Linked DNA regions of Homo sapiens: region 1 is linked to region 2. The links come from fine-mapping of genetic effects on gene expression. A gene starts in region 2. The other region holds a variant in brackets. All regions are shown on one strand. Distances are from middle to middle.

Evidence for each region.
Region 1: its variant is fine-mapped to the expression of SPMIP5 in tibial nerve (GTEx, PIP 0.96).

What each region holds. Positions count from the first base shown.
Region 1 is chr10:116,706,704-116,715,937 of GRCh38, forward strand. HSPA12A (heat shock protein family A (Hsp70) member 12A) reads right to left here. Exons shown (of 12, transcript NM_025015.3): 2 at 497-582. Among named protein-coding and RNA genes, the nearest start is that of HSPA12A, 31 kb to the right of the region's middle. The variant C/T (reference allele first, on the strand shown) is at 4,544.
Region 2 is chr10:116,666,031-116,674,030 of GRCh38, forward strand. SPMIP5 (sperm microtubule inner protein 5) reads right to left here and starts at 3,936. Exons shown (of 6, transcript NM_001350931.2): 1 at 3,897-3,936; 2 at 2,228-2,293. The coding sequence starts at 2,282. HSPA12A (heat shock protein family A (Hsp70) member 12A) reads right to left here. Exons shown (of 12, transcript NM_025015.3): 12 at 5,162-8,000. HSPA12A-AS1 (HSPA12A antisense RNA 1) reads left to right here and starts at 4,025. Exons shown (of 3, transcript NR_187551.1): 1 at 4,025-4,248; 2 at 4,364-4,455; 3 at 6,175-6,708.

The sequences.
Region 1 (9,234 bases), 41 kb after region 2:
CACTCAATGCATATGAAGCCCTGCTCAGGGCTTCTCTACCAGGCAAGCTGTTCCAGAAGCGATTATACTGCTAGGGTCTTTTCGATACTGCAGACAACCGCAGTCAACAGAGTCCATGTATTCACCGATTCACTAGCCCAGAGTCAGCGGCTTCCTCTCAAGAGGACACCTCACAGGCTCTGACCCTGAATCTTTAAAGGGCTGCTCCCATCTCACCTTCTTCTGTGACCCACCCAGGCCCCTGCTCCAGAAGCACTAGCCACAGCACAGAAAGCCTTCCCAGGCTCGGAGTGGGGGAAGGGGCTTGGCAGGGCTCCTTTGGCCAGGACCAGGTCAACTTAATCTCCAACCAGTGAATGTGAGGGGCTGTCCAGCAGCCTGAACTGTGAGATCAGACCCAGAATGCAAAGGAAGTCAGTACGCACGTGTGCTCATGCGCACCCATGCGCGCACACACACACACACACACACACACACACACACACACACTTCTTACCACAATATGGGAGGGGGACAGAGGCGTTATTCCTGTGTCCCCAAGACTCCGGGCTGGAGATGAATATGCAGATGTGGGAGCCGTTTCTGAAAGGAAAAACAAAGCCGCCTCCTTAGAAGTGGCATGGACTGACCCAGGGGGAAGAAATGAGGGCTGCATGGCCTTAACTCCTCCAGGAACTGCGGCCTCTGCAAAGCCAGCTCACGAAATGGGCAAGGCCCAGCCCCAGCCAGGAAGGCAGGAACATCCGTTCCAGCACCTCTTTGCATTTGGTATTTAGAATTCGACCAAATGAGATGCTCCTTTCCTCCCAGTCGCCACCAGGCCTCTCACTCTGTGCCACTCAACCCAGCTTAGTTGGAGATGCTGGTCAGTCCCCGAAAGCTCCGCTCCTGGCTGTGTTGTCTGTGGAGCCAGAGGCCAGGCTCCATGATGGACTAGCAGGACCTGTAGCCACCTGAAATTATGTCAAATTTTTGTGTGCATTTTCTTGGAAGAGCATCTACAGCCCTCGGGTTCCCAAAGGGGTGAGGGGTACCTCCCCCAAGGAAGAGCAACCCCTATCCTAGGAATGTAGGATGTGATGAAGCTTCAGAAAGAGCGTCCTTGCCTAGCAGATGCACCAGCTCCTCCCTCCCCCTGCCAGGGCATGTGAATTCATCTCTCTTCAGTGATACTGAAGGTTTGGGACCTTTTTCAATCATAAAAACCACAGCAAAAAGGCAGACAGATCAGCATTTCTAGCCCCTGCAGATGGGACCCAACAGCCACGAGGTCAAACAGGCGAAGGGCCAGCAGCTAAGCAGCAGGAACACCATTTTGTCTGTTCCCCTGCACTCACCATCATTCAGGCCTAGCATTTTTCTGAAGTCTTCCCAGAGCCAGTGGCTCTGCCCCAGGAATGGGCCCCCCGGGAGAAAAAACACTCTCCCTGGCCGGCATTGGAACGCGCTACAGTGCTCTCCCTGCCTGCTGCCTAGGGCTGGCAGGGCACAGAGAAGCTGAGTGAAGACTGCGTGCTCCCACCGCAGAGACGAAGGCCGGGCACTGGGCACGTGCAACGACCCAGCACCACCCTCGGTGCTCTGCACATCCTGCTCCGTTTAGTACATACGTACTGAAACCTGCTAGGAAGAAGTGGGTAATTTTCCAAGGCAATACTTGTGGTCAAGGAAACCAGAAGGTTTGAGGTGTCTGAGAAAAGCCTGTCTGCTTCTAGGGGAGCAGGTGGAATGGTTCCATCTGCCTCTTCTGCTAAATCACTTTGGGTTAATCCCAGGCTCTTGCTGATTACTTTTTCTACTTGATGAGGACTCAGGCAGCATCATTACAGTGGGCACCAAACAGGCTGTAGGAATGAAATGAATCATGCAAGAGGGAATGTGAAGCCTCAAATCTGCACAGCCACCTCCCACTCTCTGCAAGCTCACAGCCTCTCTCCGCCTGATGAGGCTCAGTTCCTATCTTGGGGAGGGAGAGGCACAGTCCAGTAATTACAGAGGCAAAAATCCAACTCGCTGGGTAAAGGACTTGAATAGACATTTCTCCAAAGAAAATACACAAAAGATATATCAACAAGTATATGAAAAGATGTTCAACATCATTAGTCTGTAGAGAAATGCTAATCAAAACCAGTGAGATATGGCTTCACACTGACTAGGATGGCTACAGTTTTTTAAGAAAGGAAAATAACAAGTGTGTCAAGGATGTGAAGAAATTGGAATCCTTGAGCATTGCTAGTGGGAATATAAAACGGGACAACTGCTGTGGAAAAGAGTTTGGCAGTTCCTCAAAAAGTCAAGTACAGAATTACCATATGACCAGCAATTCCACTCCTAGGTATCTACCCAAAAAACTGAAAACAGGGACTCAAGGAGATACTTATATGCAAATGTTCATGCAGCATTATTCACAATAACAGAAAGGTGGAAACACTTCCAGTGTCCAACAACAGATGAAGGGATAGGCTGGGCGCGGTGGCTCACGCCTATAATCCCAGCACTTTGGGAGGCCAAGGTGGGCAGATCACTTGAGGTCAGGAGCTGAAGACCAGCCTTGCCAACATGGTGAAACTCCATCTCTACTTAAAAATACAAAAATTAGCCAGGCGTGGTGGCACATGCCTGTAGTCCCAGCTACTCGGGAGGCTGAGACAGGAGAATCATTTGAACCCAGGAGGCGGAGGGTGCAGTGAGCCGAGATTGTGCCACTGCACTCCAGCCTGGTGACAGAGCAAGACTCCATCTCAAAAAAAAAAAAAAAAAAGATGAAGGGATAAACCAAATGTGGTATATCCATACAACAGAATAGTATTTCATTGTAAAAAGGAAGAACATTCTTATACATGCTATAACATAGGTGAACCTAGAAAATATGCTAAGTAAAATACATGGATGCAAAAGGACAAATATTGTATCATTCCACTTATAGGAAATCTCCAGAATAGGCAAATTCACAGAGACAGAAAGTAGATGAGAGGTGACCAGGGGTAAGAGGAAGGGAGAAATGGAGAGTTCTTGCTTAATGAGTACAGAATTTCTCTTTGGGGTAGTGAAAAATTTTGGAAATAGATAGTGGTGATGGTTGCACAACATTGTGAATATAATTCATGCCACTGAATCATACACTTAAAATGGTTTAAGTGGCAAATTTTATGTTATACATACTTTTTAAAAAAACTTTATTGAAAAGTTTAAATCAACTTGCTCATCTGGGAGGGGAAGCTATTTCTGATTTCTATTAGCACCCACGACTAACAGAATTGCTATTAGCCGTGGGCGCTAATTGCTCTTGAAAAGAGAATGGAGAAGTCAGCTCAGTTCCTAGACCAGCCTGCTGATCTCCACCATCTTTGCTAATCTCCCAGCACAAGGGAACCCCTTCCATGAATGCAGGGGGAACTCTGCCTCCCCACTAGGGGTTCCAGCCAGATGGTCCTTCCACCTGTTGGTGAGAGGTCCTCCCTGCCCACAGCCCTTGGGCAGCCTGCGGAGAAATGCCATCAGCACCAGAAGCCACCCTCTCCACCTGCTACCTGGAAGGCCTGCGCCATGTGTCCACATTTGCACAGACGGTCCTGAAAGAAACCAAATGTCTAATTGCCCAGAAAATCTGGTGTTGGCAATTAGCAAACAAGCTATTATCTGCAGACAAACTATCCACCCCGCTGCTGCTTGGTCCTAATTATCCCATCACTCAGCCCTTCTCAGAGCCCTGGGTCTTCTCACTGATTTGCAAAATAGCCAAGGTTGAGCCACACATGGAACACATGTCTTGGGTCCCCAGGGGACTCTAGGATACTTTGAGGGCAAGAAGCAAGGATTTTTTGGTTCTGCTGTACCTCCCTTCAACCCCACGGCAACTGGGCCAATATTAAACAAATCATTTGACTTGCTGATCACTCAGCCAGGCCTAGAGGCAGCCGAACTTCATGGACTTTTTCCATCAGAAGTTAAAATTCAGCTACACTGTGCAATGATTGAAAACTGATCTGCACAGAAGGTATGGAGGGGTAACATTTTCAGAGATACCTGCACATGGTGCACACCCACATCTATATATCTGTATATTCCAAATCAAAGATAATTCACCAGCGAATGTCCATCAGTACAGCACAGAAATATACACAGCCAGTAGAGACATGCTACTGTTTCTCTACTTCACTACTTAGGATGTCAAAATGATGCTCAAAAATTCTCAGGGGAAAAAAAACGGAAAAGCCTATCTCACCCCCTGAGGAGAATGGGGAGTTTAATTCTGATGTGTCCCAACAAGGCTTGAGATCTTTCATTCAGTAGGTAAATGATCAGAAATAAAATACAGAATATTATCTATTAATCTATGAATATCTGACAGATATAAGCTAATGGACAACAGGAGAGAATTGATGTATGGAATGCCCTATACATACCAAGTGTAGGCTGTGTGTCCTGGCTGTCAATTATACAGAGGCCATTATCTATAGTAAGGAATCCCAAATGCCATTAAGTGTGGCCCTGCCTCCACTGCTTCTATAAAGCTAATACAACAACATCTCCCTCGGGACTA[C/T]TCTCACCCAGGGGATAGTCCAGTTCAGTCCCCACAGGTTGACTTGGACACACTAGGAACAGAAGAGAAAGGCTAAGTCAACACCTCGACACAAATAGAGTTTCCTATAGTCGAGGCTTGAGAGAAAGAAAGGAAGCTGAAGAAAAGAAAATCCAGACCCTTCTGTGGAGGTAGAGAAGGAAGATTGCTAAAAGACAGGTTAAAGAAAATGCTCTATCAAGAAATGTGATCAAGGACAGAGCTAAAGGAACTAGGAGTTTTAAGAAATACCTACAGCACCGTTCCAAGTAGATTAAATAAAGGCCTACTCAAAGCATCTTCCACTTCAAGCACTAAGTTACCCTGAAATCCCATAATACAGAGAGAGTCAATGTTTTCACATCAAGGAATCAGAGAAACACTGACTCTTTCTTTTTTTTTCTTTTTTTTTTTTTTCGAGACTGAGTCTCGCTCTGTCGCCCAGGCTGAGTGCAGTGGTGCGATCTCGGCTCACTGCAAGCTCCACCTCCCAGGTTCACGACATTCTCCTGCCTCAGCCTCCCGAGTAGCTGGGACTACAGGCGCCTGCCAACGCGCCCAGCTAATGTTTTTTTTTTTTAAATTTTTAAATTTTTTTATTTTTAGTAGAGACAGGATTTCACTGTGTTAGCCAGGATGGTCTCGATCTCCTGACCTTGTGATCCGCTGGCCTCGGCCTCCCAAACTGCTGGGATTACAGGCGTGAGCCACTGTGCCCGGCCAACACTGACCCTTTCAAGAATGCAAACTACTAGCCACAAAACTATGGTTAAGCGGAAGGGGAAGAGACCTTTCTGGGGAACAGACCTTTCTGGGAAACAAACAGAAGAGCTTTCTGGGGAACAAACAAAAATTAATCATCATGTCTCCTTTGCTATTAGCTACGTGTTAGATAATTTAACATCACTTCAGTCTTGCAGAGCTAGTGAGCAGAAAATCTTTTTTAACTTTAGTGAACATAAAAATAAGGTGATGAGGGTGGTTATAGATTAACTCACAATCCTGGAACACCCCACCCCAACACATTAAACAATTTTTGCCAGAAAGAGGGGTATATAAAGAAATGAAAATATTTTTGCAGCAATGTAGAGGACAAATAAATAAAAGTATCAAATCCTGGCCAACAAGTCTCCTGCCCCAGGATTTCTTACAACCCCAAACCAGGCAATTGAGGAGGAACTAGTTTAGTTTGTTAGGTTAATCCTCATCGCTGGTCTTATTGGTTTAAGGATTAAAATGCAGGCTTCATCTGGGTTCCTGCTGTAAAATGCAACACATATAAAATTCAGACACAATTTTATGTGGTCCCAGCTCTAATGGCTTTAATCAAAGCAGATGTTCTTAAAATAAAAAATAGTCTTGATAAGAGAACCTCAAAGAGAGCCATAATTCATGAACTTGCTTGCTGTTCTCCTCTGCCAAAGTCATTAGTCAGCAAATGGCCGTGAGCAGAATCACAGACTCTCTGAGATACATAAAATCAATTCTGCTCCATAAATACATGTTTAAAGATGAAGACAGAACCATAGGGCTGACTTTATTCTACAAGGTTCTAGGCTCCGAGGAAATGTGACAGGTGGTCTCAACAATAGTGACATTCTAGTTTCTCTAAACAGTCCTTCTTGTTAGCTTTCAGATTTACGTATCCATCAAATAAATGCCCAATTTGAAAAGGAGTTTTAAGGTCTGGTACTTATGATTTTAAAAAATGCAATATATATATATATATATATATATATATATATATTTGCATTTCTTTTTCCCTGCTGGCTGTCAGATGTCAGGCCTTTGCTAACGATTGCCTAAAATCAGGCTATTTAAAAAAAAAAAACCTCTCTCTCTTTCTCTCCTTATATGCCTGCCTGCAGTGTCATCTTTGAAAACTGATCAGCTCAAGGTCATATGTAGGTTACTGGCAAACATCTTTTCAGAAGGAAAATAAAAAATCTTTTATTACCCTATAACAGGCTTCATGGCTAGCTGAACTAATGCATTATTACTGTAAGCTGAACTTCCATTTCAGTAAATAATTTATGGGCTGTTTTTAATCACTATGGTGGATGTCCAGAGTAAATGGAAATTTTATTGGCATGAACCAGGAGACCCTCTCACTACAAAGAACACTGAGTGTAAAATAACCACTCTGCAAATGCTAAATAATAATTATGGAAATGAGCATTTACCATGGCAGAGACAGTAGCATCAAGCCCAGGCCAAGTTGGGGGCAGCATCAGGCCCATCCTGACACGGGGTAGCAACTTCTTGTTACCCCTCCTACCTCCCTGAATAGTCCAAGAGATGAAATGTCGCAGGGAGAGCGAACTGGGGCAGCTGAGTTTCCCAAGACAGGAAAAGCCCCGAGTCCCTGCAATCCCAAACTGTCAACAGGGGTGGTTCACAGTCTCTCTCCTAACTGCAGGTTCATGCATTGGTCCGTGGGCCTCCAATTGTGTCTATACATGTCCAGGCAACTGCTGGGAGAGGTGAAGACACACTTGCTTGACCAACAGTTTTACTACTAATTTTCATGAATTACACTCCTCAACCTTACAGCCCTTCCCTCCAGCATCCAGCATTTGAAGAGGCTCTACCAGATCACCCTACACATGGTACTAAGATGTTTCTGTCCTCCTGGCTTCTCTCCCATGGACTCTGCTTGTTGGGGTAGGGCCAAGTCTTACTTCATCTCTAATTCCTTAGCTCTTGACATGTCACAAGCACTCAATGTTGGATGGATGGATGGATGGATAGATGGATGGATGGATGGATGGGTGGGTGGATGGTGGGTGGATGGATGGATAGGTGGGTGGGTGGGTGAGTGGATGGATGGACGGATGGATGGGTTGGTAAGTGGATAGATGGATGGATGGATAGATGAGTGGATGGATGGATGAATGGATGGACTTTTTATGTGTACCCAAAAGTGGACTCAGTGACTATCCACAGACTAAGAGTGTCAGGGAGTTCTTTCCCAACTGAGGCATCAACTCTCTTGAGTTGGATATTAGTAACATACATGCTATGCTGAGTGACCTCCAACAATGTGGGATCAGCTCTCAAACCACCCAGGTCTGCCTCTCTCCTCAGATACCCCTTTTGCCAGTAAAACCACCACTGCTCCCAGATGGAAGAGTCCCTAGACTTCCTCCTTTCTCATTCTACCCCCAAGCCCTATCACTCCTTCTAATTAGCATCTCTTGCATTCGCTGGCTCCTCTGCTAAGTCACCACTACAGCCTTGGTCCAGATCCTCCTGAACTTTCAGTCTCCCTGTCCTGGGCCTGCCCCCTCCCCCAGACACACTCACCCTGCAGTTAAAGCCATGACTGCAGATACAGAGAAAGCCATCTGGTCAAAATCAAGGTCTGCTCACCTAACTCAACCTTGTCAGGGTCTTCCCCTGATGCCCATTTCCCATGCAATAAAGTCCAGCACACTACTGACCCCAGGCTCTTCTAAGTCCACCCCACCTTCCTCTGCAGTCTCTTCTCTCTCTACTGCCCCACATCCCTGGCCATACCAAACCTATCCACAGGCCTTGGAACATCTGTGCTTGATTCAGCCTCTGGGCACTGCACATGCTGTTCCCCTGCCTAGCGTGCATCCTGCTTCTACAGCAGGCAAATTCTGCATCACCCTTCAGGGACCTCCACCTCTAAAAGTCAGCCTCCTCTTTTAAGAGAGAAGAGCCTTCTCAGCTCCCCCGGTGCAGATGAGAGAAGAACTTGTGCATCAGTTCCTGGTGATCAACTGGAAAACCCAGATGGGGGAAACTCGACAAGAGAGACAGGTTTCTCCTAAAGATAATCACAAGGAAAATCTACAGGAAAGGAGGGCAAACCTATGGACTAGAAGGTCTCAGCTCTGCTGTGCATCAGAACCCCCGAGGCTTGTTAAAACACAGATTAATGGTCTCACCCCCAGAGTTTCTCATCCAGTAGGTCTGAGGCTGGCTGACAATTTGCACTGATAATTTCCCAGGCTATCCTGACTGCCCCGGAGACCAACTGCGACAGCTTAGAAGAGACTTAAAACACACATCAACTCCAGTAAATGCAGTGGATGGACCTTTAGTGGATCCTAACTCAAACAATCCAAAAATGTTACATTTATGAGCCAATTAGAAACGTAAATGCTGACCAGACATTGGTAATGCTAAGGGATTATTATTAATAGTACAGTTACATAATTTTTAAAAGAGCCCTTGTCCTCTAGGGATACATTCTCAAATGTACAGACAAAACAATAGCATTTCTGGGATTTGTACCAGAATAGCAGGAGAGGGAAGGGGCAGGGATTAAACAAGGTTGGCCACAAGTTGATAATGACTAAAACTGGTGACAGATTCATGAGGCTTCAGTATAATATTTGCTCTGCTTTTGTATGTTTAAAACTTTCCATAATAAAATAATTGTGATTTGAATGTGCCAGTTACATGGAAGCTCCCGGACGGCAGGTCAATGTTTTTCTTCCGCTGTCCATCAGAGCACCTGGCCCATACATGGTAGGTGCTCCACACATATTTGGCAAATGAATGAACAAACCAATAAGGATACGAGTTCACTGAAACCTACAAATGTGGACTCTGAAAGCTTGGGAAGGTTTTGGACCTGGGTCTCAGGGTGGGTGAAGGGCTCCCAAACATCAGGCTTCTCTGGGGCTGAGGCTGGTCGG
Region 2 (8,000 bases):
TTGGAGCTGGGGAGGGAAGGCCCATTTCAACAAAGGCGATGACAGTAATACTCTTTGAATAGCAAAGCCCCTGATGTCAGCCTGACGGAAAATGGGGAAAGCATTTAATGGGCCAAAATGATAGTCTAAGGAGTAATTGAAATTATTCATCTTTTTAAAGAGAAAGCTTATTTTCCTCGACACTTCCCAAATGCAATTTGGGATCTTTCTTGCCGGACCATCAGGAAATTGCAGGCTTATTAAAAGTAGAGCCCTGTTACACAAAAAGGTAAATTCATTATCTGCAAGACCCACCCCTAGCACAATTTTTCACCATTTCCCACCAAGTAACATATAATCATTACAATTAGTATGGGTAAAACACAACTATTTACTTAAACTGGAGGCTGAATCCTAAGTACTATAATATTGTCACAATAAAACCATTTTTTTTTTTTTTGAAGAACAAATGAGGAAAACTGGTTAAGAACTTAGTTTCAAACTGCAAAATAAATAAATAAATCTCTCTCCTTATGGAAACCCAACATTTTTGCCATGGTCTCCAGGAAAACAAAACCTGGCTTCAGAGTTGAAAGTAGCAATCCTCACCCCCAGAGCCCTACAATAACCCCCTCTGGAAGAACCTAATTACTAAACTAATCTTGACAGTGTTGGAAGCCTTCCATGCATCGCCCAGACTCCCCAACCCTTGGATGATTAAAAGATATCCTAACATTATGAAGACCCTAGGGGCTTTGCCACAGTGGTTTCCCTGCCATCAGGGCCGACTTTGGTCTGCCTAGGTTTTATATTAGTGCATATATGCACAGACATAAGCATACGAACTACCTTTATCGAGTCTCGCTAAGGACCAAGACATTTAAAATAGGTTATGTATGCTGGCTCCTTTAATCCTCACAACAATCTTATGGTATCCCATGTAGTGGGTTGAACTGTATCCTCCAAATAGATATATGCAAGTCCTAACCCCTGGTACCTGTGAATGTGCATTTATCTACAAATAGGGACTTCTCAGATGTAATTAAGTTAAGGGCCTAAAAATGAGATCATCCCGGATTTAGGGTGGGTCCTAAATCTGATGACTGATGTCCTTATAGAGGAAAGAAGAGAGAGACTTGTGACACAGAGACAAAGGGGGAAATGCCGTGTGAGGATGAAGAGAGTGACTGGAGAGATGCTGCCACAAGCCAAGAACACTGGGGCCACCAGAAGCTGGAAGAAGCAAAGGTGGGATCCTTCCCTAGCGCCTTCAGAAAGAGCATGGCCCTGCGGGCACCTCGATTTCAGACGTCTGGCCTCAGAACTGTGAGGGAATGCATTTCCATCACTTTAAACCACATAGTTTGTGGTAATTTGTTGCAGTGGTCCTAGAAAACAAATACATCCATTTTATAGAATGTTGTACTTACCACAGAGAGGCAAGTTACTTACAGTCTCATCGACAGTGACCAAACAGAGATTCGAACCTCAGCTTGTCAGAACCCAAAGCCTATTCTCAACCAGCCATTAGGACCAGAGTGAGGTTGGGCAACCCTGGAATATCACCCAAGTACTATTCCTCCTGAGAACGGCTGTATGGGAGAGCCAAGGGTCTGTGGGGACCACTGGGTTTGTCACCCACAGGGATATGACTTAGTAAGTTCTCAGTAGCCCAGAAGCCTGAGGAGGAATAGCCTCTAGGTAGGGCAACCAATCGTCCTGGTTTGCCAAGGACTGAGGAGTTTCCCAAATGCAAGATTTTCAGTGTTAAGGAAAGTCCCAGGCAGTCCCAGGACAAAGGCAGTCCCAGGTAGACCAGGGCAGTTGGCCAGCCTTCCTTTAGGGGATGCAGGAAAGGATGGGAGCACAAGAATAACCTTTGTGGAGGACTTGAGAAAACCAACTTGGGGAGAACAGGGCCTCTACTTATTCATGTGTCTATCCTCATCACATTGTGTCTATCCTCATCACATTGTGTCTATCCTGGTCCAAATTCATTCAACAGGCATTAAGTGCTTCCTCTGCATACCAGGCCATGTTCTGGGACGTGTGGTCTAAGTTCTGCCCCTCAGAACCCGGCCATCAGCCATCTTCAGCGATGGAATGCTCTCAATGCATGTCTGAGAAGCTAGAGCGCCTAGACTGGTCCAGTTGGCTGCACAGACACAGACAGTGGGTCAAGGCAGGGACAGTGACCAGGACCCGGGTTCCCCTGCCAGGCACAGCTGCAGGGTACGTCCACACTTACCGCTATAGCCTGGTGTGATTGGCAGGTTTCTCATGAAGGTCTTGGAAGGCTCCATGATTTCGCTCTCTGTTAGTGGAGGGAAGAGGGAATGAAACGGTCTCATCAAAAGTCACTGCCTTAAGGAATTACTATTGAGTGTGCACAAGCTCTTGGGAGTGGAAGAATGACTGCCAGGAGTTGGGGCTGAGAGGCAGCACTACCACCTTACCCAAAGCCAGAGACACAGCTGGCTTCAGTCACAAACCAATGACCTATTACCAAGGGCCCATCACCTTTTATGTTAACTTGGATAACAGTGTGTAGATCACACCTACCAGGGTCTCCTCTCCCCTCCATCCGACCTCCAGCCATCCAACAATTGTGAACTGTACTCATACTATGGCTGTGAAACATGATAGAGGCTGGGAATGCAAAGCTTCTGAGCAAGCCCAGAAGCCCCTGTGTTAGGTTCATGAGCCTCAGGTGAGGAGAGAGATGAGGCCCGCACACCCCCAGACCTCCTTCTTGATCCAGGTGAAATCAGGTTGCAGTGGTGATTTTTGCCAGCCCCCACCATTACCCCTGGAACATCTGGCAATGTCCAGAGGCATATTTGGCTGTCAGAAGTGGGGGATGGGATGCTACTGAACATCCTGCAATGCTCAGAAGCCTCCCCCCACCCGCCGGCACACACATGCACACACACACACACACACACACACACACACACACACAAACAAGGGAGAAGAAATTCTGGCTTGAAGGAATCAGGAAGTCCCAAAAGGCAGACATGGAGTCCAAGGAGGGTAAGCAGAGGCCACCCTCTGCTTCAGGGGGCTCCACTGAAACATCAGTTTATGTGGATGCTGTTTCTGCAATAAGACACCTTCCCTCTTTGGGTATCGCTGGTCATTCCCCCCAAGTGGGCTGAGGCCTTGCCAAGTCCTGCCCTGCTGAGCCAGTTCATCTCTTTAAAGAAATGCCTTTGAGGCTGGAAGAAGAGGATTCAGGGTGGAGGAGAGGGCCACAGTCATGGCTTAGTCAGCAATGATGGGGATTGTTAAGACAGTTCAGCCCCCGCCAGGCTGACAGCAGTGAGGACTGTGCCGCGTCTAGGCCACTCTAACCCCTGGCATCACGTACCTGACTCCTGGGAGGAAGCACTGGGCCTGGAGTCAGACAGACCTGGCTGTGAGACCATGTCCCACCCATACTGACCACCTGCTTACTTTTCTGAAAGCTTTCCACGCTTGTTTAATCCTCTCAACAGCCCCATGATATAAATGCTATATTATACCCATTCCCCAATTTAAAAAGGCAACAGACAGGGAACACTGGCTATCCCCATGTGGTTGCAGCAGAACCGCATTCTCCTTTAATCCCCACAGCTTCCCTAAGAATGAGTTCCTGTTGGAACCCCCATTTTATAAATGTGAAAAATAAGGCACAGAGAGGTTAGGTAACTGGTTTCAGGGTTCCAGAGTGAAAGGGGGTGCGAACAGATGACCTCTAAACTCTCAGGGACAGGATATGTTGCCCAAAAGCATCAGCTGGGGTATAAGCCTGCCTGGAGGAGGTGGGCAGGGAGGAGGGTGGGAAGAAAGGCGGTGTCCTGAGAAAGGGGGCTAGGAGTGGGTAGAAAGTAGGGCCCCTCCTAGCCACCCTCTTCCAATCCCACCTCAGCGCTCACCTGGGCGGGGCTGGCGCTATCCGGTGCCCACTTGGCCTCTGCCCGGCCGCCCAGGATCCCTGCCTTCCACCAGGCCTTTGTGCGCTCACCCGGTGGAGCACAAAGGCCCCACCACCGCCAGCCTGCCCCTCCCCCACCCTTCCCGCGGTCCCACCTGGAAGGTGGGCGCTTCCCCCAGCGCCCGGCACAGCCCGGACCCCGGTGTAAAGTCGGGCATCTGCGCAGTAAACATCTGGCCTCGGAGCTGTCCTCCGCGCCTTGGCTGCCCCAGCCAGGGGAAGGATATGCGGAGGGCTCTAAGTCAAAGCGGGCGTTTTTGCGGGTGTAGACACTGCGGCGCCTGGGTCTGCAGGTCTGGCCGGGGAAGCGGGTGGGCGGGAACAGGGGGCGGGGCCGGCAGTGGGCGGGAGGAGGCGAGGCCTGGGGGCCCTGGCGCCTCCAATACAGGAGCTTCCTGGGCCTGGCAGCCCCTCCCTCCCTGTCTCCTGTTAGGAGGGGCAGATTTTCAGGTGGCCGGGACAGGTGAAGGCAGAGAGGAGTGGCTGTCCACCTGGGGAAGGTGAGTCATCCTTCTTTCTAATCACTCTTGGAGGGACACCCAGACTTCCTCTCATTGAATTGAAACCCACCAAGATGTCCGCCCTATGAACCAGCATGTGCTGGCTGCTCCCTTTACAGAAAATGACGCTGAAGCTGCGCTACTTCCAGGACACGCTTGTTTGCTGCACCTCCCGGCCTTCCCTACCTCTACTTTTCTGAAAATTGAACTGCAAATGAAGGCTGGTGGAGCCGACCACCATTTATACCTCTCTTTTATCACCCCATTTAGAACATACCTCGGGCCATCAGGAAGCTTTCAGAGCCAACTGTGGAGGGCGACTCAGGTGTAGGCTCTGGACACAGCCAGTTTCACGTGACGGCTGGGATGCCCAGGGGCAAGAGCCCAGCCAGGCCTTCTGCATGTTTTAATGACTTACACTGGGGTGCAGTGGCATTGGCAGTGGTCACTCTGCTTACCTGCCCTCCCTCTGGCTAGACCACTTTCTTCCAGAGAAAAGGGGCTCTGTGCCCATCGATGGGGCCTTGGTTCCCAGCAAACAAAGGGCCTAGTCTTGTTAGAATAACTTAAGAAAACTTACAGCACCTGGAAAAAACTGAAACTCTCTCTCCACCACCTGAGATGGGGTAGAGAGGGAGATCAGTACTGACGTGTCCATCATGCAGTTTGCAAACCCAGGATGGGGGGAAAAAAAATCTGGGCCACATGAGATTCAGAGTTTTGCTTTATTAGGCGTCTGTGAAGACAAGAGAGTTTGCAGACACAGTCCCGTCTGGTGGTGAACTGCTGCAAAGTTCTGTGAAGTTTGAATTTATCTTGTAGTGAATGAGACCCCAGTAGCTGATATTTTAGAATACTGGTCCATATTTCAAGCAGATGAGAGGTGTGGCATTATGGCCAACAACTTTTATATTAGCCATCCACTCAAGCCGTTTCCCAGCATACATATGCAGCTTAATCACAGCTATACATCTCTACAATGTGAAATTCGATCTTTGACTAATAATGCATTCTGACTCCTGTTTACATTGGTGCATGCGATTCTTTGCTACCCTGGCAATTAACCAGACCTGGACTCTAAAAGCTAAACTTGGTCTAAATAACATTCTAAGGGTAAGGCAACCTCTATAATCTGGACTCAGCCATCATTTTGCAAAAACAGTTGTATGGTTCCTCCTCTTTCCCCTCCTGTCTGTAACTTGTCTGTTACTCAGCATTTATTCATGCCTGCTGTGTACGGAAAGGGCAGTTACAAAGGAAAGCCTTGATGATTCTGCTTCCAAGAAACGTGAAGATCAGATAATATGCCAGGGACAATTGAGTAATGGGTCAAGACAACAGGCCTTGTAGGTATTTTCTAAGGTTAGAAAAATGTGTTCAAGTGTACTTATCCAGTGCTCTTATTCTAGAATATTCCAGTGGGGGTAGGGAAGGAGGGATGGATTTGGGGGTTTCATTTAAGGACTCTGACAACTGGGGCTGCAGCTCTGTGGCCAGAAGATAAAATTATCATCCTCTCCATCACCTATCTGCCAACACTGCAGATTTCTATCTGCTCATTTAAGAGAAACAGTACACAGGGAGATAGCATTAATGCAAGGCAGGAAAGGCTTTACATTAGCCCAAAAAAGAGGGGCTTGACCATGTTACTCACACTTACACTTAGCCCAGCAGAAAAGCTGGGCTTATGTACCACTTGGTTTCTTTCTTTGACCCTAGCATCCTGAAAACATCACACACAGTGGACCACGCTTTGCCCTCAGAGTGACTGCTCCGACCCGGAAGGAGAGGTCAACGACCCCTCAGGACACAAAGGGTTTCTTAGGTTGTTCTGCGCAGTCACATGGCTTCCAGAACCAGAACGTTCAGCTCTTAAAGTCTGCACAGAAGAACTGATAGAATCTGCTCCTTTCAATGGAATCTGTGACTGTTTGGGAAGGATGTGCATGGAGAAGGGTCTGATGAGGCTCCTGATCCAGGCGGTCCACGTGCGTTCAGTGTGTTTGGACCCTAGGCACCTCTGTCTATTGCTCGGTCTTGCGTACATAGTCCATAGCTTGGCATCAGCACAGATCGATGCTTAGTGAGCACAATTAAGAAACCAAACTATGGAAAATTAAGGACAGTAACAAAAGTATCATCAACAAAAATCAAGCATTTTCCTCTTTTTGAAACAAGAAAAGCGCATCGTAGAAACCAAGATTCTGTACAATATTCTAACATTATATGTACATAAAATTATATTACTCATAACTATATTGAAAAGTCTTATTTGTAGAATATGGCTGGCAACAAAGAAAGACCCATACCATTTAGCGTTTGAAGCAGGGCAGGTAGCAAGAGAACATTAGCAAAGACACCTTTGTGCCTGGATACACAATCCTGCTACTAAGTTATGTGACTAACCAGCACACTCTAAGTTCTGTGGTTTGTTCGTTGTTTCACATTCTAGTAGGGAATTCTGCAGCAGGCGATGCGAAAAAGAAGACATGGTCAAATGAAATGTGAAATGCTGTTTAAAATCTGCATATTGGCTATGATAATGGGTTTGTGAATCCAAGTTGCATTGGAAGTTCACTCATTCTCCATTCATTATGCATGCCTCCAGTGATTTAATGAATTTCAGCAGGTGGAAAAGACAGCTTTGAACAGATCAGATGGGCTGTGAGTCAGATTCTTGATTCTTTTTCCTCATTTGGCTCCTGAATGTTGCAGAAAACTGGTTTTGTACACTGGGGAAGGAGAGAGTGAAGACCCTCCAGTTGGTTCCTCAGTCAGCTCCGTTCTTGGTGTCGCTTTCTTGCAATTTTTTTCCTCCCCTGGCCCTTCCTGTGAGGGTTAAAAGGGCCATCTCCAAGCCAGGTGGAGCCCCAATCCCATTGACCAAGAGGGCAAGGTATGGGGTCACCTTCTCATGGAAGCCCTCTTCCTAAAGGAGCCCAAAGGGGACACCTGCAGAGGGCGGGCTGTGATCTGTGTGTGAACTTCAACAAAATCTCAGGTTAGTATTTCTCCAATTTCAGTTGAACCACGATGTGGTATACACTACAAATGCAGATTCTGGTGCCCCTCTCCAAGAGTCGGCCTCAGTTAAAAAGGGCTCAGATCCAGGAACCTGTTCTGAACACGCACCCAGGCAATTCTGATGCAGGCGAGCCACAGGCCCGCTGTGAAAAAAAACTGACTTAATACATCAAGTATAGATCTACAAATTATTTTTAGAGAGACTTGAAAAACTGAAGATTTTAATGAAACATTGCATAGCACAGATTCTCTTCCCAAATTTCACCAATGTATTCCTTTCAAAATGTGGAATTAAATGGCCAAAACTCTTAGGGAGATGAAGGTGAGTGGGAAGGAGGGGGTTAATTTAAAATCTGTCTGCTTTTCAAGGTGAGGGGCTCTTCTGGATGTCTGGTCTTGGTGATGCAAACAAGACCAATGGCAACCTCATTTTCTTACCCAGAATTCCTACTAAGGTTCACTAGAATTACTTATGAACTCAGAAATCAGGGCTGGGCATGCTGGGAATTTATGTCACAGCA